Linked DNA regions of Homo sapiens. The protein of the gene in region 7 interacts with the protein of the main gene of each other region in a biochemical or structural test. Each region holds a gene or a part of one and is shown on either strand. Other genes may lie near its edges.

Evidence for each region.
Region 1: the proteins of SENP1 (region 7) and ZNF420 form a complex in vitro, tested with the Homo sapiens proteins (one study listed by BioGRID).
Region 2: of the proteins of SENP1 (region 7) and HIPK1, one has a biochemical effect on the other in vitro, tested with the Homo sapiens proteins (one study listed by BioGRID).
Region 3: of the proteins of SENP1 (region 7) and CAV3, one has a biochemical effect on the other in vitro, tested with the Homo sapiens proteins (one study listed by BioGRID).
Region 4: the proteins of SENP1 (region 7) and GCM1 form a complex in vitro, tested with the Homo sapiens proteins (one study listed by BioGRID).
Region 5: of the proteins of SENP1 (region 7) and USP25, one has a biochemical effect on the other in vitro, tested with the Homo sapiens proteins (one study listed by BioGRID).
Region 6: of the proteins of SENP1 (region 7) and HIPK2, one has a biochemical effect on the other in vitro, tested with the Homo sapiens proteins (one study listed by BioGRID).

Annotation. Positions count from the first base shown.
Region 1 is NC_000019.10:37,123,433-37,126,932, forward strand, and holds part of ZNF420 (zinc finger protein 420), read left to right. Parts: intron 1-3,500. UniProt on the Homo sapiens protein: May be involved in transcriptional regulation.
Region 2 is NC_000001.11:113,970,824-113,974,323, forward strand, and holds part of HIPK1 (homeodomain-interacting protein kinase 1), read left to right. Parts: intron 1-1,000; coding exon 1,001-1,131; coding exon of another isoform or gene 1,132-1,215; exon of another isoform or gene 1,216-1,235; intron 1,236-2,200; coding exon 2,201-2,689; 3' UTR 2,690-3,500.
Region 3 is NC_000003.12:8,743,802-8,747,258, forward strand, and holds the end of CAV3 (caveolin-3), read left to right. Parts: intron 1-1,724; coding exon 1,725-2,066; 3' UTR 2,067-2,957; downstream 2,958-3,457. UniProt on the Homo sapiens protein: May act as a scaffolding protein within caveolar membranes. Interacts directly with G-protein alpha subunits and can functionally regulate their activity. May also regulate voltage-gated potassium channels.
Region 4 is NC_000006.12:53,126,461-53,129,151, forward strand, and holds the end of GCM1 (chorion-specific transcription factor GCMa), read right to left. Parts: intron 2,487-2,691; coding exon 1,746-2,486; 3' UTR 501-1,745; downstream 1-500. UniProt on the Homo sapiens protein: Transcription factor involved in the control of expression of placental growth factor (PGF) and other placenta-specific genes. Binds to the trophoblast-specific element 2 (TSE2) of the aromatase gene enhancer. Binds to the SYDE1 promoter.
Region 5 is NC_000021.9:15,872,982-15,876,481, reverse strand, and holds part of USP25 (ubiquitin carboxyl-terminal hydrolase 25), read right to left. Parts: intron 2,080-3,500; coding exon 1,956-2,079; intron 1-1,955. UniProt on the Homo sapiens protein: Deubiquitinating enzyme that hydrolyzes ubiquitin moieties conjugated to substrates and thus, functions in various biological processes including inflammation and immune response.
Region 6 is NC_000007.14:139,575,499-139,578,998, reverse strand, and holds part of HIPK2 (homeodomain-interacting protein kinase 2), read left to right. Parts: intron 1-3,500.
Region 7 is NC_000012.12:48,099,580-48,103,079, forward strand, and holds part of SENP1 (sentrin-specific protease 1), read right to left. Parts: intron 1,938-3,500; coding exon of another isoform or gene 1,894-1,937; coding exon 1,890-1,893; intron 1-1,889. UniProt on the Homo sapiens protein: Protease that catalyzes two essential functions in the SUMO pathway.

The DNA.
Region 1 (3,500 bases), on a different chromosome or scaffold from region 7:
GCCTTGTCTCTTGAATTTTTTCAGAACACTAAGATACAACCTTAGGCTATTGAAGCCAGCAAATGTCCCAAGGGTAGCTCTAACTTCAGAGCATGTTCACCTCTCCAGTTTCTGGCTCTCAGCTCTCACTTCATTGCTTGACTTCTTTATTTTCTTTTACTCTTGTCTTTTTTTTTTTTTTTTTTTTTTTGAGCGGAGTCTCGCTCTGTCACCCAGGCTGGAGTGCAGTGGTGCAATCTTGGCTCACTGCAACCTCCACCTCCTGGTTCAAGTGATTCTCCTGCCTCAGCCTCCCGAGTAGCTGGGACTACAGGCGTGTGCCACCATGCCCAGCTAATTTGTGTGTGTGTATTTTTAGTAGAGAGGGGGTTTCACGAGTGTTAGCCAAGATGGTCTCAATCTCCTGACCTCGTAATCCGCCCGCCTCAGCCTCCCAAAGTGCTGGTATTACAGGCATGAGCCACTGCGCCCAGCCTTAATCTTGTCTATATTTTTAAAAGGATGTTTGTCATATTTTACCCACCATTTATTGGTGTTTGTTAAGAAATCTGATATACCATTCAGATACCAACTGTATCCACCTACTGTCACAGTCATAATATACAACAGTTCTATTAACCATCCCTAAATTCCCTCATGCTTTCTTCTTTCATTGTCAACCTCTCCCCTTTAACCATTCCCAGCCTATGAAAAACTACTCACCAAATTCCATCCATATAGTTTTGCTTTGTCAAGAATGTCATATAAATAGAATCAAAATATGGCTTTTCTCACTTAGCAAAATATATTTAAGATTTATCCATATTGTTGCATGGATCAATTTGTTTCTGTTATTGTTGAGTAATGTTGCATGAATCAATACTTTGTTTCTGTTATTGCTGAGTAATGTTCCAGTACCTGGAATGGCCAAAGTTTGCTGATTCATTCGCCTTTTGAGGGACATCTGGTAGTTCCAGTTTGGAGCACTTCTGAATAAAGCTGTTATAATCTTTGACATATAGATGTTTGTGTGAGCATAAGTGTAAATACTAATGTGACTGCTGTATCATATGCTAAATGTATGTTTAACATTATAAGAAACTACCACACTCTTTTTTACCATAGTTACAGTGTTTTGCACTCTCAGCAACAGTATTTGAGAATTTTTGTGTTCTGTTTCTTGATCTGTATTTCTAACTGAAATATTCTTTATCACTATAGACTCCTTCCCTTATATTGGATAATTGTTTTTTTTTTCTTTTTCTTTTTTTATGAGCCAGAGTCTCGCTCTGTTGCCCAGGCTGGCTTGCTAGTGGTGAGATCTTGGCTCACTGTAACCTCTGCCTCCCTGGTTCAAGTGATTCTCCTGCCTCAGCCTCCCAAGTAATTGGGATTACAGGCACCTGCCACCACACCCAGCTGATTTTGTATTTTGTTTTTTTTGAGATGAAGTCTTGCACTGTCACCCAGGCTGGTGTGCAGTGGCATGATCTCGGCTCACTGCAACCTCCGCCTCCCAGGTTCAAGCGATTCTCCTGCCTTAGCCTCCCGAGTAGCTGGGATTACAGGCACCCGCCACCATGCCTGGCTAATTTTTTGTATTTTTAGTAGAGACGGGTTTTCACCATGTTGGCCAGGTTGGTCTCGAACTCCTGACCTCAAATGATCCACCTGCCTTGGCCTCCCAAAGTGCTGGGATTACAGGCATGAGCCACTGCGCCTGGCATGAATAATTGCCTTTTTTCTCTCCAACATTCCATGAGATTATAGAACCCTTTCATTACGTTATAGACCTGTAGTAGTGCCTGGGAACTCTAGGATGTGTTCTTCCCAGAACACACAGAATTGTCCTTGAATAGACAAGTAAATAAGAGAAGACATGAGGCAAGGCATGAAGAAACAAAGGAAACTGTGAAGTAAGGATAAGTAAAAGCAACTTAGTATCCTATTTGAAAGGGATAGAGAGAGCTAAAGAGCAATTGGAGAGGCATATAGGATCATAGATTTAGTATGGAGGTGCTTTTGTTTCTATGTGTAAGGAAGTTATAGGGAAACCACAGATCACTGGTTTCTAGGCATGTACCACTAGGGTGGTATGAAGGGTTGATTACAGAGAAACAGGACAAGGGTATTTAGGAGTGACAGAAGTATGACGGTGGGTGGATACATGATTTGTGTCCTTATAAGTCAAAGTTTCTTTTGTTTTTTCTCCTGTTTTTCATTCACCTGGTTTTTATTGAGTGCTTTCATTACCTAGTTTTTATTGAGTGCTAGACATCACAAAGAAAAGTTATAAGGTTTCAGTCCTTGGATAACATTATACAAAATCCAATAAAGATTTAAGTTTGCTATGGCAAGCAGTCTTGAATCACCATAATCCAAATTTTTGAAATTTGAGCTGATTCAAAGATGATTCAGACTTCAGACTCTGTCCAGATTGGTCTACTGTTTCTCCTTTATTCCTCAGTATAGCTCTCAGGGTTCCCAACCCAAAGTATAAAGAATTCATGGCAGGCCCTATCCTCCAGTTATTGTTGCCCAGCCCTGTGACACAGTCCAAAACACTGTTTAGTTTCTCCCCCTCTTAGCTTTTTCTAGAATCATAAGACTTCTCTAAGTGGAAATGTGGACCCAGATGTTGGGCTTATCTCTTTGATTTTCATATTTTTCAATTTTTAGCCACCCACTCTTTATTATGTAAACGCTCCAGTGGCTTCACTCAGGTGCCTTTTATAATTTGCTTAATTTGTATAATTGCTATCATCTAGAAGGTTGGTCTAAATTACCTAAATTACCAGAAATTAATGTTTAAGATTTAGGGGCTGATAATTAAATTAAGACCTGAAGAATGAGGAAGAGTGTTTGTATAGTCTCATCCAGAGCAGTCCAAAGAAATGGAATAGGCTCTGGCTAGCTTTTAATTGAAAAAGGTCTGTGACTTTTTCAGAGTTGAAAGGAAGCTAGTTTTTCTGGCAAATAAGGAGCGAAGCTGAGAAGGCTCAACAGATACATAAGCAAGGAGAAGACCATGGAAGGGGAAATAAGTCAAAGTCATTGAAGAGTTTGGATTTTATATTAATATGGAAGCTACTAAAAAGTATTAAGCAGATAAAGAAAATCATTATCTGAATCTGAATCAGTTGATAGGAAGGATTAAAATTACAGATCTCCAGGATCTTTTTCTGATTCACTAGCAGTTAGTCTGGTGTAATGTTGGACAGCTATAATTTTAACATGCTCCCCAGGTGATTTTGATCCCCACCAAGGCTTGAGAACTACTCACTTTAAAATTGTTCTTAATCTCTTCCCTTATCTTCTCAAGTGAGTTTTCATTATTCTCTAATCTCTCAGATGCCCCTTTCATATATTAATATATGAGATCCTTCTTAGCTAATTTTTTTTAAAATTCTAGATAGGAACATTACTGTACCATGAAATCAGTGTAGTGGGGTTTGTCTGCATGTGTATGAGACAGAGAAATTGAAAAAAGTAGAAATATTGCAGAATAGAATAGAAAGCAG
Region 2 (3,500 bases), on a different chromosome or scaffold from region 7:
GTGTTTGATTCCTGAGCATCCAGTCAGAAGGAGAAAGAAAGTGTGAAGGAGGCACACACATGTCTTAACCTCTTTAGGCTGGAAATAAGTGGAAATAGTGAATGCTTCTCACATGGCCCCACCTAGATGCAAGTGAGCCCAGGCAATGTAGTCTTGTTAAGGCAGCTGCTTTTCAGTGACAACTTCATACCAAGGAAGGGGTTGGTGAAGTTTAGGTGTCAACATAAACCTGGGCCATACTTGTATAAATTATGTTTTATTATGTATTATCTTACTGCCATAGACATAAACAGGGTTGTAATTTGAGGGTATTGTGTTATGCCTCTGTGTGATTCTTTTCAGAAGTAGACAGTTGTCCCATTGCAGACAAGAGAGAGAGCTTCCTGATGCCAGGCTACTGAATAGAATTATTAGTACCTCCGTGTGCTCTTGGGTCCAGAGAATATAGGCTATCACATGAGACACTGAATAAATGCTCTGGTTTTCCTAATGGGAACACAGAAGCAAGCAAAATTTCACATTCAGCTGTCCTGTAATTTCTAAGAATTTGAAGACAGTAAGTGTCCAACAAGATAGAATTTTGCCTTCTTTTAAACCCTCTTGCCACTTTAATATCCTAAGAATTACCAATAGCTTTCTCAGCTTCACATTATCATTTCTGTGCTTGTTTAATCCCTTCCTACATAAAACTATAAACTCTTGGAGAGAGGGATGGTGTCTTAGCATATTTGTATTTCCAGTCGTTCCTTGTATATAACAAGAGATTATAGTTAAAATATTTATAATATTTATTTAAGTGAACATTTTGAGGATCCTATGTGGAGATTTGTGCCAAGACAGAAAAGAAATGGGTGATAACAGGTTATTTTCTTCTGATGTAAATAGAATTGAGACCTTAATGCTTGCAAACTACATACAGATGTGGACTAATTAATATGATGCCATCTGAGGTTAGCTCAGTGATGTCTACTCATAACTATTAAGCCTGGTGCTTTTTTAGGTCTCCTGAGCAATAAGACTAAGCCAGTCGCTTCAGTGAGTGGGCAGTCATCTGGATGCTGTATCACCCCCACAGGGTATCGAGCTCAACGCGGGGGGACCAGTGCAGCACAACCACTCAATCTTAGCCAGGTAAGTGCTATGGGCTACTGCCTTCTGTTTGGGCCCTGCACTGTTGTTACTTTCTGGAGAACCCTGCTTCTGGCTGGATGCTGAATAAAGCCAAATGAAGCCCCTTTTGTGTCAAACAATTTTGTGTTCTATGGCTTACGTCGTACCGCATATGCTGTGTCTCTTCATTCACTCTGTAAGTGTGTTCAGGATGTACATTCTAGGTTTTCCATCAGACCTCCCTAAGTCTACCCTGGAAGGTTAGAGAAACGTCTGGGATTTAGAAAGAGCCTGGGGTGCTTTAACCATGTCTGTGATAGGCATATGCTTTGAGACCAGATTCTCTTTATCCCCCAGGCCATAAGTAAGCTGATCCTTACATTGTTTACTTGAGTCAAGAGATTGTGAAAAGCTCATTGGCCACCAAATTCAACTGGTTCTAGGTCCTACTTGTTGCTGGAGTCTGCGATTTGGGACTTCCCCACTCTCCGAACACCCCCAGCCCCAACCTACCCTTCTGCTTCTCTCATTACTTTATTCTATTTGTGTTCACTCTTAGAAGCTAAAATTCGAGTGCTTGTATGATGTCCACCAGTAGTGAGAAAGTGTCAGTATGAGGGTATGTGAGAGAGAGCACATGCAAGTGAAAATGTAAGTTTGAGTTAGTGCATGTATTTTAGTTTCCACATTTCAAGAGGGGTATGAAGAACTTAGAGGACGAAAACAAAAGAAAGCAATGGTAAGAAATAAAGGCTAGGAAAAATTCAAATTTACTGACGCCAGAATAGGGTGAGTTGAGTCACCAGTTATTAACTTGCAGGAGTGGGGAACCCTATGATCTCTTGATTCTCCCTCTTCCTGTCATACTTACAAGCAAAATGCTGTTACCTGAGCCAGATTAGGATCTATCTTGCTAAGAGGCAGAAGGAGGGGTGGCTGATTTCTGACAGCATTCAATGCCAGTGTGGGAGATTATGTGCTATACCCATTCGAAAACAGTACAAGTCAGAACCTGAGCTCTTAACTTGGCCTTTGGTGCCCTGAGCTGGAGTGACCTCAGGATTCCTCACTTCTTCCTTCTTTCTTCCAGAACCAGCAGTCATCGGCGGCTCCAACCTCACAGGAGAGAAGCAGCAACCCAGCCCCCCGCAGGCAGCAGGCGTTTGTGGCCCCTCTCTCCCAAGCCCCCTACACCTTCCAGCATGGCAGCCCGCTACACTCGACAGGGCACCCACACCTTGCCCCGGCCCCTGCTCACCTGCCAAGCCAGGCTCATCTGTATACGTATGCTGCCCCGACTTCTGCTGCTGCACTGGGCTCAACCAGCTCCATTGCTCATCTTTTCTCCCCACAGGGTTCCTCAAGGCATGCTGCAGCCTATACCACTCACCCTAGCACTTTGGTGCACCAGGTCCCTGTCAGTGTTGGGCCCAGCCTCCTCACTTCTGCCAGCGTGGCCCCTGCTCAGTACCAACACCAGTTTGCCACCCAATCCTACATTGGGTCTTCCCGAGGCTCAACAATTTACACTGGATACCCGCTGAGTCCTACCAAGATCAGCCAGTATTCCTACTTATAGTTGGTGAGCATGAGGGAGGAGGAATCATGGCTACCTTCTCCTGGCCCTGCGTTCTTAATATTGGGCTATGGAGAGATCCTCCTTTACCCTCTTGAAATTTCTTAGCCAGCAACTTGTTCTGCAGGGGCCCACTGAAGCAGAAGGTTTTTCTCTGGGGGAACCTGTCTCAGTGTTGACTGCATTGTTGTAGTCTTCCCAAAGTTTGCCCTATTTTTAAATTCATTATTTTTGTGACAGTAATTTTGGTACTTGGAAGAGTTCAGATGCCCATCTTCTGCAGTTACCAAGGAAGAGAGATTGTTCTGAAGTTACCCTCTGAAAAATATTTTGTCTCTCTGACTTGATTTCTATAAATGCTTTTAAAAACAAGTGAAGCCCCTCTTTATTTCATTTTGTGTTATTGTGATTGCTGGTCAGGAAAAATGCTGATAGAAGGAGTTGAAATCTGATGACAAAAAAAGAAAAATTACTTTTTGTTTGTTTATAAACTCAGACTTGCCTATTTTATTTTAAAAGCGGCTTACACAATCTCCCTTTTGTTTATTGGACATTTAAACTTACAGAGTTTCAGTTTTGTTTTAATGTCATATTATACTTAATGGGCAATTGTTATTTTTGCAAAACTGGTTACGTATTACTCTGTGTTACTATTGAGATTCTCTCAATTGCTCCTGTGTTTGTTATAAAGTAGTGTTTAAAAGGCAGCTCACCATTTGCTGGTAACTTAATGTGAGAGAATCCATATCTGCGTGAAAACACCAAGTATTCTTTTTAAATGAAGCACCATGAATTCTTTTTTAAATTATTTTTT
Region 3 (3,457 bases), on a different chromosome or scaffold from region 7:
GAAAATATTGTACTGGAAAGAAATGCACCAAAACAATCATATCTTTAGTAATAGAGAAGTACAAACCCAAGACTCTTTTCTTTTTTCTATTCTGTTAATTCTCTGTGATATGGCCATTTTTTTTATAATGAAAGTAATTTTAATATTGGTGATGCAATAGAGGAGAGGATCCCCTCCCCATAACCAAGGCGGGAAAGGGACTAACTAACCAGGAAGATTGAAGTTGGAGCCTCAGCCCTGCAGGCCACCACACAGGCCCCTCCTGTTGATCTGATTAGTCTGTACCTGCATCCACCCCCTTTTAATTTGAATGGCCCAGGAGCACTGCTAGAAAGAAAACATCTCAGAACAGTTTCAGGCATTAGCAAACAGCTCTGCAACCTCCCACTTGGCGGGCTGTACTGGTAACAACCATGGGGAGACCAGTCATGAAGCAGCTAATTTGGTTCACTGCTGTTTAATTGACCAGTGGAATTTTTTTTTTTTTTTTTTTTTGAGATGGAGTCTCGCTCTGTCACCCAGGCTGGAGTGCAGTGGCACAATCTCGGCTCACTGCAAGCCCCGCCTCCCGGGTTTATGCCGTTCTCCTTCCTCAGCCTCCCAAGTAGCTGGGACTACAGACACCCGCTGCCATACCCGGCTAATTTTTTTTTTTTTTTTTTTTTTTTGTATTTTTAGTAGAGACAGGGTTTCACTGTGGACCAGTGGATTTTACAGCCTCCCATCCTTTCATCCTCATGATACCACTGGAAGACGTTCATTGACTCCATCTTACAGACAAGACAGCTGAGGCTTAGTGATGCTAAGTGACATCACCCATGTGTAGGCAGCTAGGAAGGTGCTTCATGCATAGCAGGGCTCGAGAGAGCTTAGGTAAGCGATGTGAGGAACCTCTGCCTGTTCACCATCCAATCCACAGGTGCTCAGTAAATTGCTGTAGGATGCATACGACCGTCCAACACCCTTCAGATCATAAAACAATAGAATTTGAGAGCTGCGACTATAGCACTGCCACTAAGTCACTGTTGGCTTTAAGCAAGTCGCTCACCTTGAGGGGGTTGAACGAGCGTGTTGTGTTGGTCAGCGGTGCCTAGGAACAGCAGCAGCTTGGGCTCAACAGGGAGCTTGTTAGAAATACAGAGCCTTAGGCCCCACTCCAGACTTGGGGAGTCGGAATCCCTGGGGCGATGATATGGTCTGGATCTGTGTCCCCTCTAAACCTCATGGTGAAACATAATCTCCAATATTGGAGGTGGGGCCGGGTGGGAGGTGATCGGATCACAGAGGCAGATCCCTCGTGGCTTAGTGCTGTCCTCACAATAGTGGGAGAGTTCTCATAAGATCTGGTTGTTGTAAAGTGTGGCACTCCACCCCCTGCCCAGCTCTCTCTCTTGCTCCCACTCTCACCAGGGGAGACGCCTGCTCTCCCTTCTCTAGCCATGGTTGAAAGCTCCCTGCGGCCTCACCTGAAGCCAAGCAGATGCCAGCACCATGATTCCTGCACAGATCACAGACCCATGGGCCAATTAAACCTCCTTTCTTTATCAATTACCCAGCCTCAGGTATGTCTTTAAAGCAATGCAAGAATAGCCTAATACAGGTAGGGTCCAGCCACCAAGGTTAACCTGACCTCTAGGGGATTCTGACACATGCACGCACACACCCAAAAGCTTGAGAAGCGGGTGGCTTCTGTGAGTTGAGGCTTCCCCTTGCCACCCCTGCAGGTGGATTTTGAAGACGTGATCGCAGAGCCTGTGGGCACCTACAGCTTTGACGGCGTGTGGAAGGTGAGCTACACCACCTTCACTGTCTCCAAGTACTGGTGCTACCGTCTGTTGTCCACGCTGCTGGGCGTCCCACTGGCCCTGCTCTGGGGCTTCCTGTTCGCCTGCATCTCCTTCTGCCACATCTGGGCGGTGGTGCCATGCATTAAGAGCTACCTGATCGAGATCCAGTGCATCAGCCACATCTACTCACTCTGCATCCGCACCTTCTGCAACCCACTCTTCGCGGCCCTGGGCCAGGTCTGCAGCAGCATCAAGGTGGTGCTGCGGAAGGAGGTCTAAAGCCAGGTGGGGCAACAGCGGTGGCAGGGCAGGGGGTGGTGGGCCAGACTGGTCCCCGGGGGACTTCTTCACAGGGGCTGCTGGCGAGCTCTTTCTCTTTAGGGACTGCTCCATACCCCATGATGGAGCACACGGTGTAGGGAAGCCAGAAAGAAAAGACGGCCCAGCCACAGAAGCACAATGGCCCTTCGCTCTCCCCCAGCCCCACCATGATGCCCCCATGCCTGGGCGTGGGGGAAGATCATTTGCCAAGAGGCAGCTACTGCAAGTCTTTGCGTTCACTTGTACTGTAACAACATAAACCAGCACGCGGTTCCCACCCGGGGCCAACCTCTCCACGCGCACTCAGGAAAGTGACCAGTGACCACTGGCGTTAGGAAGGTGGCTCCAGTAAAGGGTTTTGGCTGCATTTGGGGAATGCTGCATTTTGTTCGTGCCTGTAAGATTGGTTTGTGTCCTGACCAGCTCCAAAAATATACTTCACTGCCCTGAAAAACAGACACAGGGAGAGTTGGTTGTCTCTTCACTTGGCCAAATGTAAGTGAAGAACAGAGTCTTTTTCTTCTTCGGATTCTATTGTTTGCTGGAACCGTACACGTTCCTTGGAAGATCATGTTTAAGTGACTCCTGTTGCCTGAGCACAAAAATGGGCACCAATGGAGGAAAATGACCCTTGGGCTGGCAGGGGCAGTGACCCTTCCAGGGTACCACTGAGGGAAGGGCCTGGGTTCAAGCCTCCCGGAACCTCCCCTTTGGCTAACCGAGCCCCTGAAATGCCCAGTACTGCCATTTGACATGAGGGTACCTTCGCCCTCAGGAGATGTGACGAAGGAACAAGGTCTAATTTGTGCGTGTGTGGACTCACTATGGAAATAAAATGCAGTAGAAAGAGCATGTATCACTTCCTCCCTCCTCACACTCTCTCTCTCTCTCACACACACACACACACACAGTGCCCTTATCTTCTTTAGGGCTGTCTTTTCCGAGTGTGCTATCCAGAACTTAGCCATTAAAAAAGAAAGGATGGGGATGGGTGTTAGCATCTGTGGTCCGGTTCTTTCAGAAATGCTGTATATTTCTCTCAGAGATTTTCAATAGACTTTGGCACATTAAAGGCTCTGACATGTCCTGCAGTAGATAAACCTGTTTAAACCAGTATCCCCCCAATCCTATCTGACCTTTTTTTTTTCTTTTTTTCTTTTCATGCAACGCCCATTTAAGTCTCATATAATTAAAGTTCCACAGCACTTGTCAGGTTTTCGGAGACATTATTCATGCCTGGCCACGAGCCCAGTGGTCTTGGGAGGCAGTGTGGTGAAGTGGACCACACACAGCTTGGGAACTAGGACGCAGGCAGCCTTGGTTCTAGTCCTGCTTCCGCTCCTAGTTGC
Region 4 (2,691 bases), on a different chromosome or scaffold from region 7:
CCATGCCTGGCCAATATATAAGTTTTATATATAGTCTTGTCACTTAGACAAATGAATTTAGAAGATTTGAACAAATCTAAATGTTTATCAATAGGGACTATTTAATTATAATAGTCATGTAATGCATAATGCATCATTAAAAATGAAGCAGCTGTGATCCTATATGCTTATAAGAACTTAATGCTCAAATTGGCTCCTAAAACGACAAAAACTATGTTAGAAATGAATCTGATATGATACCACTTATGTCATCTCTCTCTTATATATATATATAAATATATTTTATATATAAAAGATATGTGTGTATTTTATGTAATGTATTTCATACACATTACATATAATTATATATATGCAGAGAACATTTCTAATATCTGGAATAATAGACAAGAAACTAGTCAGTGTTGCAGAGGGGAGACTAGAACTAGGAGACTTCTTTTTTTTCACTTTTGAATTTTGTATCATGTGCATCTGTTACTATTCTAATAAAGGAGAAGGAATAATTTATTTCAAAAATACTTGTTTATTGCATGGTTCTCTCCAGATTTTATGTCTAGGCTTACTTTTATCATAAAGTACTTCAGCAAAGAAGAGAAACTGGCATTCAAACATGGCCGGCCAATCATTGCCAGGCTAATTGCACAAGAGCTTCTCCAAGCAAATATTTCTCACCTATTACAAACCCCACATTGATATAGGTGCCACAAATAATAAATGGGATAAAACAGAAGCCCCTGTGCAAGGGGAAGTCAGTGAGGAAGAGGGAAGGAAACAAGAGGCAAGGAGACCACGCACATCACTAGTGTTTCTCTTCATATGGCAATTTAACATTGCTGTTCTTTGTCTTTATGAAAAATGGGGTTAGGTCAGGTTCCTTGTCATCACAAGTCTCAGAAATCATCTAGAAAACATATATTTTACACACTAGTCTCACAACTAGACAACATATTCAGTACTTCAGTGGTAGAATCTTCAGCTTTTCACACCTTAGGCAGTTCTTCCACCATCTATTTCTGTTTCTTCATTCTCAGTTCCCAAGAAGGCATAGATCAGGTCCTAGATAGGTTAGCATTTCACATGTCTACTCCATTTCATTTGCAACAATGACAATGAAAACCCAGCATGCAATGTGGCTGAGGTGCTGGGAACCCCAAACAATGTGGGGGAAAAAGCAGAGGGCACTTCACACCCCAGACGGGACAGGTTTCCATTCCTTACTGAGGGTGGAAATACTAGAGTGGAGGAGAAGAAGCCAAAAAAATTACTCATGTGAAGAAAAAAGCCTTGTCAGCCGGGCACAATGGCTCACGCCTGTAATCCCAGCACTTTGGGATGGTGAGGTGGGCAGATCACTTGAGATCAGGAGTTTGAGAGCAGCCTGACCAACATGGCAAAACCCTGTCTCTACTAAAAATAGAAAAATTAGCCAGGCGCAGTGGCAGGTGCCTGTAATCCCAGCTACTCGGGAGGCTGACGCAGGAGAATCACTCAAACCCGGGAGGCAGAGGTTGCAGTGAGCCGAGATGGCGCCACTGCATTCCTGCCTGGGCAAAAGAGCAAGACTCTGTCTCAAAAAAAAAAAAAAAAAAAAAAAAAGAAGGAAAAAAGAAAAAGAAAAAAGCCTTGTCTACTGCTTATCATGATTCTCATTTATCTGTGGTTATGTTTTAAAAATTATTTCCTAAGGAAATTCTTTCAGCCCTTCCCCATTTTTGAGGGGCTGGGGTGCACATAGTGAAAGATTTGGGTCATCTCAAAGGACACAGGTTCAGAAGCATATCATTGTTGCAGTGATCCAAACCCAAGTATGTCATTTCTTCCTCAAAATCCCATTTGCTGCTCTTGCTTGGCAGTGAATATTGCTGATGAGGATGAGAGGCGTAGGTGAAGAGAAAGGGGTCTTCTTGAGGTGAATGGTATGCAGGAGACTGGACGTAGCTGTTAAAATCCACATGTACTTTCTCTTCATAAAGATTACCCGCTGGATTTGGCCATAATGGGGGACAGCCAGTTTTGGCTGCAGGTGGCTCCAATGGAAGCTGCTGGTAAAAGGGTTCTGAAGAGTTTTGGGAAGGAGAGAAGCTGCAAGGCCAGCTGGTCAGAGGAAAAGGATAATTGGAATAACAGTTGTCAGCAAGATGATTTCTCCCCAAAGCAGCATTTTTACTCCACGCTTGTAGATCGCCATGATCAGAGTAGACTCCGGAGGCAGAAGGAGGAAGCAGGTCTCCACTACTGTAGGTTCTGCTACTGGACAATTTGCGCTTTTCATAGAGCTTCATGGGGTCCACAGTGGAAGTCTGGTCAGTCAGATCTGTGATTCCTCCCAGACCATAACTCTTGGAGAAGGAAAAGCAATCATTTAGTGAGTTCTGCTGAGGAGTGTTAGCTATTAAATGTCCACTGTAACTACCAGGCAATTGGACGCCTTCCTGGAAAGACCAAGTTAAAGGTAAACTCCCCTGACTTTGTGTTTCACCTGGAAGAGACTGGAAAGGAAAGTGAAATGCTCGTGTTAATAAGTTAAGCAAATCAAAACCACTGCCATAGGCACCCATGAGTTACTCTGTACAAATAAGAGCTCCATCAGATTTTCCTCATTCCTTACACATTAATACTTGACGCACAAACACATGCAGCGGCTTGACCACAACCACGAAACACTTGAAAAAAGCAAAGGCTGCCTCTGTTTCC
Region 5 (3,500 bases), on a different chromosome or scaffold from region 7:
TCCCCAACCATGTGGAACTGTGAGTCAGTTAAACCTCTTTCCTTTATAAATTACCCAGTCTTGTGTAGTATCTTTATAGCAGTGTGAGAACGGACTAATACACCAATCGTGAACAGATTAGCTAAATCTGTTAGCTTCACTTTCTTTATATTAATAATAGGGTATTTTATCTTCCAACCATAGGGGTTAAGAGAATAAAATGAGATAAATCTTCAAGTATTTACTACAATTTTTGGAAGTATGCATTAAATGATATATAAAATTTAATGACAAGTTTAATGTTAAGTTCACTGAATCAAAGAATGTCCTGGAAATCTCTTAAATAAAACATGTTCAAAGCCAACCTTGTTCCTCCTATTAGACTCCCTAATATTAAACGAAAAACTAGTAAGTTTGGCAGCTTTGACTCTTCCATTTCCTTCTTCCCACTCACCCAACAGCTATGACATGCCGATTTCATTTCCTTCACCATCATACCTACCGTACTACATGAGTTGAGGTCCTCACTCTCCGTCCCTTGACTTTCCCCTCTAAGGTTCTTGACTTCAATCTACTTCTTTCCTGTTCATCCTCTAGAATGCTATTATTATTACCAGAATTATTTTCTGAAAACAAACCTCATTATGCCAAACCTAATCAAACTTACACTGGTGCAAACTCATTTGAATGTCATCTAAGTTTCTTCATCATCTGACATCGACAAGTATTGTCAGCTTCATCACTTCCACCTTACCCCACTTCCTCATAACCTGGATAGCCACAGTGAATTTATCTTGATTTTCTGTTGTGTACTGGAATATTCTCCCTTCTCTATCATGAATAAAACTTCTATTTATCCATCAAGATCCAGACGAGGTTTACCTTGTCTCTTAAGGTTCTTCCCAAATATTTCAGGCATATCATTGTGCATATTTCTCATAATGGCACTTATTCCAGAACAAACAATTATGTCTCCTACCAGACTGAGTTTTCTGAGGACAGGAAGTACATCTTACTCATGTTTGTATCCCTCAGAACCTGACACTTTGTAAATATACAACGTGAAAAAATCTGAAAGGAACACTAAAGTAATCTTGACGAGGTTTCATTTCAATTCCTATGTAAAACAAATAACCAAATGTGGCTGGGTTACTACAAAAAATGATGAGAAACATTATACCATTTTTTGAAGGTTTCAGAGGAACCATCAGGTTTTGGTTCTATGTATGTTTAAAGTCAGCTATACTATTCTTGTACCTGAAAATTCAATTTTTTAAGTTAAACAAATTACTCTAATACATTCTATGTATATTCTTGTTTTTTTGAGACAGAGTCTTGCTCTGTCACCTGGTTGCCAGGATGGAATGCAGTGGCGCGATCTTGGCTCAAGGCAACCTCCACTTCCCAGGTTCATGCGATTCCCCTGCCTCAGCCTCCTGAGTAGTTGAGACTACAGGCGCACACCACCATATCCAGCTAATTTTTGTGTTTGTGTATTTTAGTCGAGATGGGGTTTCACCACGTTGGCCAGGATGGTCTCGATCTCCTGACTTTGTGATCCACCAGCCTCAGCCTTCCAAAGTGCTAGGATTACAGGCATGAGCTGCTGCGCCAGCCTGCATATTCTTATAGACTTACATAAAACATTTTTTAAGGCTTATCTATGCATCCCTTCCTCTCCCACCAAAAAAAGGAGTGGTAGTGTGATGACGAAATCTAAATACAGAAATGTAAACAAACTGATGCTATTTTAAGAACATTTCTCATTTATCACCTATAGTACTTGGGATTCATAAAGAGAAAAGAATAAAGTACTGAGTGTACTTTTCCATCTGAAGGGACTAGAACCAGTTTATAGACATCATCATGTTCTTATCCCCTCAGAGTTTATGGAGTCAATCACTTATATATGAGTCTGGAAAACTTGCCCAATGTCAGACAAAATGATAAGATCATACTATATGCATTCAACTTACTAGCAAACATTCTCTTCTATAATGTGATATCAATTCTTCATCATGTCCTCTGTATAAGCCTTTAGACAAGAGTTCTTTGTTATTCTGATAAGCACAGATGAGGAACAGCAAGGAATCTATATAACTTGAAAATTAAAAAGAAACATATAACATTAGTATTTCACCTTTGTAGAAACAAAGTCAGCTATAATTATGAAACATTTTAAGTATATGCTTAAGTTTTGATAATCTACATTATAATAAAAAATATCATCTGACGCAGTGTATGCTTGAGAGCGCCTTTTTAGCAACAGCAACATCTGAAACCCAGAGATAGTTATCTTAAAAGTAAAAAAAGAAGAGCTATAAATTAAGAAAAAATCTGGGAAAAGAGGCAATAACTGATAAAGTCAGATAGTTCTGTTTTCCTTGGTATTTATTTTCCTGATGTCTTCCATTTAAACTCAAAATTGGAGCTAATGTGAAAGCCAACAATCTAATTGTTTAACGCAATGTCACATTTATATGAAGTAAATGATCACAAACATCATTTGGTTTGTTCAATGACAACTTAGACAGGTTCTTTTCTATGTGCAGACAGTTTTAGTTACTGAGAAAAATGTAAAAAAAAAATAGAAATAAGAATATCTAAAGGAAATAGAGGAAGTGGACAATGAAAGATTTCTTCTAAATCTGGGAAACCTAGTGGAATAAAGCAAAAACAAAAAGCCTGCAAACATAAAAAAGCTGATAGAGGCCGGGTGCGGCGGCTCACACCTGTAATCCCAGCACTTTGGGAGGCTGAGGCAGACGGACCACCTGACGTAGGGAGTTCGAGACCAGCCTGACCAACATGGAGAAACCCCGCCTCTACTAAAAATACAAGATTAGCCGGGCATGGTGACACATGCCTGTAGTCCCAGCTACTCGGCAGGCTGAGGTAGCAGAATCCCGGGAGGTGGAGGGTGAGGTGAGCTGAGATCACGCCACTGCACTCCAGCCTGGGCAACAAGAGCAAAACTCCGTCTCAAAAAAAAAAGAAGTGATAGAATTAGGCATATGTGTTATATTAATGTAAGTCTAGATATTATGAAATTCAAATTAGGTTTTAAAAAGGGAAGAAAAGGGGCCAGGCACAGTCGCTCATGCCTGTAATCCCAATACTTTGGGAGGTGGTGGTGACAGGATCAGCTGAGGCCAGAAGTTCAAGACCTGCCTGGCCAACATAGTTGACACCCCCATCTCTACAAAAACATTAAAAAAAAAAAAATTAGCTGGGCATCGTGGTACATGCCTGTAGTACCAGCTACTCAGGAGGCTGAGGAGGAAGGACTTCTTGAGCTGAGAAGGTAAGAGGTTGTAGTGAGCCATGATCATACCACTGCATTCCAGCCTGCGCAACAGAGCAAGACCCCAACTCAAAAATACAAAACAAAACAAAAATGGAAGAAAAAAATATTTAATAAAGAATTACTTTTACCTCAAAACTATCCTTCTAACATGTCAAAATAAAAACTATATCTAGCCAAGTATTTGTATAACTGAAATAAAAAATATTATTTTAAA
Region 6 (3,500 bases), on a different chromosome or scaffold from region 7:
AAAATATAAATCACAGAAATATAGCTGTCCGGCACGGTGGCTCACGCCTATAATCCCAGCACTTTGGGAGGCCAAGGGTGGGGCAGATCACCTGAGATCAGGAGTTCGAGACCAGCCTGGCCAACATGGCAAAACCCCATCTCTACTAAAAAATACAAAAAATAGCCAGGTTTGGTGGCACACACCTGTAATCCCAGCTACTCGGAAGGCTGAGGCTGGAGGATCACTTGAACCTGGGAGGCAGAGGTTGCAGTGAGTCGAGATTGCACCACTGCACTCCAACCTGAGCGACAGAGCAAGACTCCACCTCAAAATAAAAAAAGGAATTTAGCTGTCCTCCATAGAAAGTCAAGGTGATAAAAATATTTCAAGCACATTCCAGAAACTTAATGAAGAAAAATAACTGAGTACAAGATACAACACATGAAGTGCTCAAATCAACAAAGGATGGCGGAAAGGAGGTTACTCATTACCTTTCTCTCTTAAAATGCGCTCCCTTTTTCCTGGGCAAAGTCTTCCTCAGTCTGGTTCTTAGACTAAGAATCAGTACCATGGCTGGGCACAGTGGCTCACGCCTGTAATCCCAACACTTTGGGAGGCTGAGGCAGGCAAATCACTTGAGGTCAGGAGTTCACGACCAGCCTGGCTAACATGGTCAAACTCTGTCTCTACCAAAAATACAAAAATTAGCAGCTGGGCGCGGTGGCTCATGCCTATAATCCCAGCAGTTTGGGAGGCCAAGGCAGGTGGATCACAAGGTCAGGAATTCGAGACCAGCCTGGCCAATATGGTGAAACCCCGTCTCTACTAAAAATACAAAAATTAGCTGGGTGTGGCAGTGGGCGCCTGTAGTCCCAGCTACTCGGGAGGCTGAGGCAGGAGAATCACTTGAACCCGGGAGGCGGAGGCTGCAGTGAGCTGAGATCACGCCACCGTACTCCAGCCTGGGCGACAGAGCGAGACTCTGTCTCAAAAAAAAAATTAGCTGGGCGTGGTGGTGCATGCCTGTAATCCCAGCTACTTGGGAGGTTGAGGCACGAGAATCACTTAAACCTGGGAGGCAGAGGTTGCAGTGAGCCAAGATCACACCACTGCGCTCCAGCCTGGGAGACAGAGCAAGACTCCATCTCAAAAAAAAAAATCAGTATTGTTTCTGTGCACATCTCACCCCAGCAGGACTGGTTGCCCAAGGAGGCAGGACAGCCCCCAGCCCCAGCGCCAGGCTCTTGTTCATTCCCTGGTCTGCCCTGCCCTTCTTGGTGGGGGACCATCTGCCTGTCTTTCCACCTGGAAGATGTTTTCTTCTCCATTAACTCTACTGTTCTTTAGCGTTTAAGGAACAGAAGCAATGCTTGTTGTAACTATGGTTTCTAACTATACAACACAAACCACACAGTCTTCAGGCTGCTTTGTCGTAGCCTTCACTTACTAAACCCCTCTTTTTCTGCTTCCGTTGTCATTGAAGTTAGAGAAAGGTATCTGGAATTTTCTGCCTCCCACACTTTCCTAGGCCATTATGCAGTTTGCTCCTAAAGAAGCCCAGTGTTGGCCCAGCGCGGTGGCTCACGCCTGTAATCCCAGCACTTTGGGAGGCCAAGGGCAGGTGGATCACCTGAGGTCAGGAGTTTGAGACCAGCCTGGCCAACATGGTGAAACCCTGTCTCTACTAAAAATACAAAAAAGTTAGCCAGGCGTGGTGCCGGGTGCCTGTAATCCCAGCTACTTGGGAGGCTGAGGCAGGAGAATCACTTGAACCTGAGAGGCAGAGGTTGCAGTGAGCCGAGATCGCACCATTGCACTCCAGCCTGGGCAACAAGAGTGAAACTCCATCTCAAAAAAAAAAAAAAAAAAAAAAAAAGGAAGCCCAGTATCTTCTCACTAGTCTGGGTCTGTTTGTTGCTTTTGCCATTACAAAAGTGCTTGCATTTAATGAATGGCTATGACTGGTGCATCTGGGTGCATTTGATTGGAAATTTCATTTAGGTGTGTATTAATACTGCACTGTGTGTTAGGCAGCCCTCTCCTGGAGGAGAGCTGAGGCACAGGGACATGGGGGGCTAGTAAAGCATCTCTTCTGCTTTTATCAAGGGGTGATGGTCCTGTCTGCAGAACTCCCCAAGCTGGGGTGGGGAGATGGCCCCCACTCGGCAGCAGAGCTCCCGCCCTCTGGGGCTCTTGCCCCTGCTGGGCTGGACACTCATGCCCTGTCCTGCCCTGTCCTGTTCCATCAGCCTTCTTGGACTTGGGCTGTCCCTGACTGTCAGCGTCTTCATCTGGTTTATCCTCTGGCCTCGCCACCTCATCTGCGTGATCTGTGATGCCTCCTCCTTATTCACGCTCTCAGCCTTCTCCCTGCCACCCCCGTCCCTGGTGGTACACAGTCACCGTCCTTAGCACAGGGCAGGAGCTCAGAAAATACTTGGATGAGTTAAAACCACTGGGCTCTGAAGAGGCTCCTGGCTCCCCTGGCTCTCTGGCTGGGTAACATGGAAGCCATCCAGCTCAGGGTTTAACCCACCTCTCTCAGAGCCCCTGGCTACTCAGAGCGTGGTCCCCCAAGCAGCAGCACTGGCACCCCCTGGGAGCTTGTCAGAAATGCAGGTGCTCGGGCCCCCCAGAGCTGCTGGCCAGAGTCTGCACTGAACAAGATGCAGGAATTACATTTGAGAACTGTTGATGGAGCCACCTGCTGACCATGAGGTCACCTCTGGAGGGTTGCAGTGTTTTTTCCACTCTTCAGCCCCCTTGGCAATAACATGGAGGCAGTTTTGTGCTTGGCCATGTTTGGCTCACAGGGCCATTCCCCGGATGATTTAGTCTCATCCTGCCTAGAGGCAGGTAACTGGACCAGGTGACTCTGAGGGTTATTTTAGCTTCTAGTAGTTTATTAGGTCCCACCACAGACACTGTCTCCTCTGATACTCATAGTCACCCATGGTGGGGACCAAGCAGGGATCCTGTCTTAGTCTATTTTGTGTTGCTGTAACAGAGTACCTGAGACTGGGTAATTTATAATCAATAGAAGTTTATTTGGCTCACGATTCTGAAGACTGGAAGTCCAAGAACAGGATGCCAGCATCTGGCAAGGACCTTTGTGCTGCATCTTCCTAGCACAGGAGGCAGAAGGACAAAAGAGCATGAGGGTGAGGGGGCCAGACTTGTTTTCATCAAAAAAGCCAATCTCTCAATAGCTAACCCACTCCCGAGATAATATTAATGCACTGATGAACTCATACACTCATGAGGGCTCTGCCCTCAGGACCTAACATCCCTTACTGGCCCCACCCTAAACACTTGCACTGGGGACTAAGTTTCTAACACAAGAACTTTGGGGAACACATTCAAATTATAGCAGATCTCTCCTACCCATTTTCCAGATGCTGAAAGTAACACCTCCCAGAGGAACGGCACTGGGCCTGGCCTTAGGCCACCAGCCCACCTTGCCTCTCCTGATTCTTTTCCGCTTTCCCTTGCTTCATTCCCTCATGCAGCCCCGACCA
Region 7 (3,500 bases):
CTGAGGTGGGCGGATCACTTACTTGAGGCCAGGAGTTTGAGACCAGCCTGGCTAACATGGCAAAACCCCATCTCTACTAAAAATACACCAGGCATAGTGGCACATGCCTGTAATCCTAGCTACTTGGAGGCTGAAGCATGAGAATCGCTTGAACCCAAGGCAGAGGATGGAGTGAGCCAAGATAACACCACTGCACTCCAGCCTAGGCAAGAGAGTGAGACCCTGTCTCTAATAATAATAATAATCTGCCTGAACATTTTTTTAAAAGCATAATTTTATTCATATTGCTCTTAACAGGTATCAGCTCAATAACTATAATATTATGGCAGAATTTTACTTCAGAACCATTTTTGATACCTTTGTTACTATAGAAGAGCTAGAATAGAAGCAATAAACGTAACAGAATTCAACGACTTACACTGCTATCAGCAATGAGAGAAAATGGAAACAAATGAACAGGGAAGGAGAAGGCAGACTAAGGAAAAGGAAAACACAGAATAGAGAGAAAGCTAATGTGAATGTAAAAGGAACATATGGGATGTTATAAGACCTAAGTGTATAGATTTTTCAACTTATTCCTAAATTAGCTACTAGTCCTGACCTTATATTGATCCCCTTAACAGACATAAAGTACTACAAATGAAATAGTGAAAAATGTCCTAACCACAATTCTCAGTAACACTAGCTAAATGAAATAGAATATTTACATTAATCAAATTATTTATCATTTAGAAGTAGTATAACATAGTACTAAGGAACAAGAACTCTTGGCTGGGCGCAGTGGCTCACCCCTGTAATCTCAGCACTGTGGGAGGCCAAGGCAGGCGGATCACGTGAGGTCAGGAGTTCAAGACCAGCCTGGCCAACATGGCGAAACCCCATCTCTACCGAAAATACAAAAATTAGCCGGACTTGGCGGCGCACGCATGTTTGTAATCCCAGCTACCTGGGAGGCTGAGACAGGGGGATTGCTTGAACCCAGGAGGCAGAGGTTGCAGTGAGCTGAGATCATACCACTACACTCCAGCCTGGGTGACAGAGCGAGACTCCGTCTCAAAAGAAAAAAGAGAAAAAAAAAAAAAGAACGAGAACTCTAGAAAACTCTAGAACCAGAGTGCCTAGGTTTAAATCCTGGCTCAGCCAGTTATAGTACATGACTCTAGGCGAGCTTCTTAACTTCTGTGTCTCAGTTTCCTTGTGATATAATAGGGATAACAACAGTAACCTACTTGGTAGGTACTATTAGGTACCCTTGTAAGATGGTTATAAGGATTAAATGAACCAATATATTTTAAATACTTAGAACAGGGTCTAGTACACAGTAAATGTTTGCTAGGGTATACTTAACTTTTTCAATACAATCAATGAGATAATACTCCTAAATGAGCATATAAACAATGTTCTAACCAAAAGATAATTATGTGGGCTGGGTGCGGTGGCTCATGCCTGTAATCCCAGCACTTTGAGAGGCTGAGGTGGGCCGATCACCTGAGGTCAGGGGTTTGAGACCAGCCTGGCCAACATGGCGAAACCCCGTCTCTACTAAAAATACGAAAATCAGCCGGACGTGGTGGCACATGCCTGTAATCCCAGCTACTTGGGAGGCTGAGGCAGGAGAATTGCTTGAACCCAGGAGACAGAGGTTGCAGTGAGCTGAGATTGTGCTACTGCACTCCAGCCTGGGTGACAGAGCAAGACTACGTTTCAAAAATAGCAATAATAATAATTTTGTTTGGTATATAGTATTACATAATTAGGATTAAAATTTCTCTTAAAATTATTATTAAGCACAAAGATACAAATACTGAAAATGTTAGGAAAACCCATTCTTTCACTACAGCTTAACCAATGAAAGTAGCTAAAAGGATTCAACAGCTAGTTAGTCTTACCCATTTCAAGTCTTTTCACATCACTGACTTTAGCAAAGATACAAAGTCCTATAAAAGAAGACACAAAACAGAAAAATTACATACTGAAACACCTACTTCACTTAATTTTAGAAGGTGCAGCCACTAGAAGTGACATTTGTTTGTGTTCTTAGTGGAGAAAAATCTAAGGTGGTAAAGAGTTGACTTGATGGGAAAAGAGTAAAAACTAAAACTAGCTTGAGGTACTTCCAAACATTTCTGCAACCTGTACTACATTAAACAGCAATTACAGACTACGCACAGAATCACAGAATATTAAAGCAAGAAGCAAATTGGGAGCGCCAACCCTTAAGAGACTGAGTGGTTTGCATAAAGTCATAATGTTAGCAACTACACCGAAATTATAACCTAGAAATTCTTCCCAATCCATTGTTCTATTACCTCATGCTAAATCACTTCATAAACAAGTGACAGACTTTGTGATGGTCCTATTAAGACTTTTCTTCCATGTCTTACTCAGTAGCCTGATACTCTAATGACAATCAAGAACTACTCTGGAGTAATACAAAGTACTTCCCCCAACATCATCAATCAAACTGCTACAAACCAAAGCCCCTTTGCCTATATAAAAATTACTGTCTCCTCTGATGTATCCACTTTTTCCACAAAATAAAGATGTTAAAAACCAAACTGCTGGCCGGGTGCAGTGGCTCACGCCTGTAATCCCAACACTTTGGGAGGCCGAGGAGGGCAGATCACTTGGCCAAGGAGGTCAAGACTTGGAGGCCAGCCTGGCCAACATGGTGAAAACCCATCTCTACTAAAAATACAACAATTAGCCAGGTGTGGTGATACGTGCCTGTAATCCCAGCTATTCAGGAGGCTGAGACAGAAGAATTGCTTGAACCCAGGAAGCAGAGGTTGCAGTAAGCCGAGATCATGCCACTGCACTCCAGCCTGGGCGACAGAGCAAGACTCTGTCTCAAAAAAAAAAAAAAAAAAAAAAACCAAACACAAAAACACAACCAAACTGCTTGGAACTAGGTTAATAAACATATCCTCGGCACATATGGTCTTGGTAGATTTCCAAGAGGAGGAGGCTACTAGGGATGGTAATAGTCACACCTATATATATTTATAATCTTATAACCATATTTTTAAAAAATATTAAGCACTTCATCAACCACATAGCAATACTAGGGCTTCAATGTATTCATGAGGCTGGATGATGATAATAGGCATTCTTTGTGGTCACAATAATGAAAGTCACACAAAGGAAGGCAGCTTAAAGTTTTCTTGGCGTACGAGACCACGCCACTGGCCACTGCACTCCAGCCTGGGCGACAGGGCGAGACTCCGTCTCAAAAAAAAAAAAAAAAAAAAGTTTTCTTGGCATAGCTATAGACTAAGCAGAGTAATTATCTGATTACCTAGTCTTGCCAGGAAGGATCCCTAAAGAATTTAAGCCTTAGATTTATGCTTCAAATATATTTCCAAATGCTCAACTTAAAAGGCTTCTTTACTAAAAATTCTTCAGGTTATTCTTTCCCCTTCTTTCTTCTTTAATAGAGTAGACTCCCTTGGGTTCCAGATTAAGGGGGAAAAAATCTTATCAACTAATATATTAGCAAC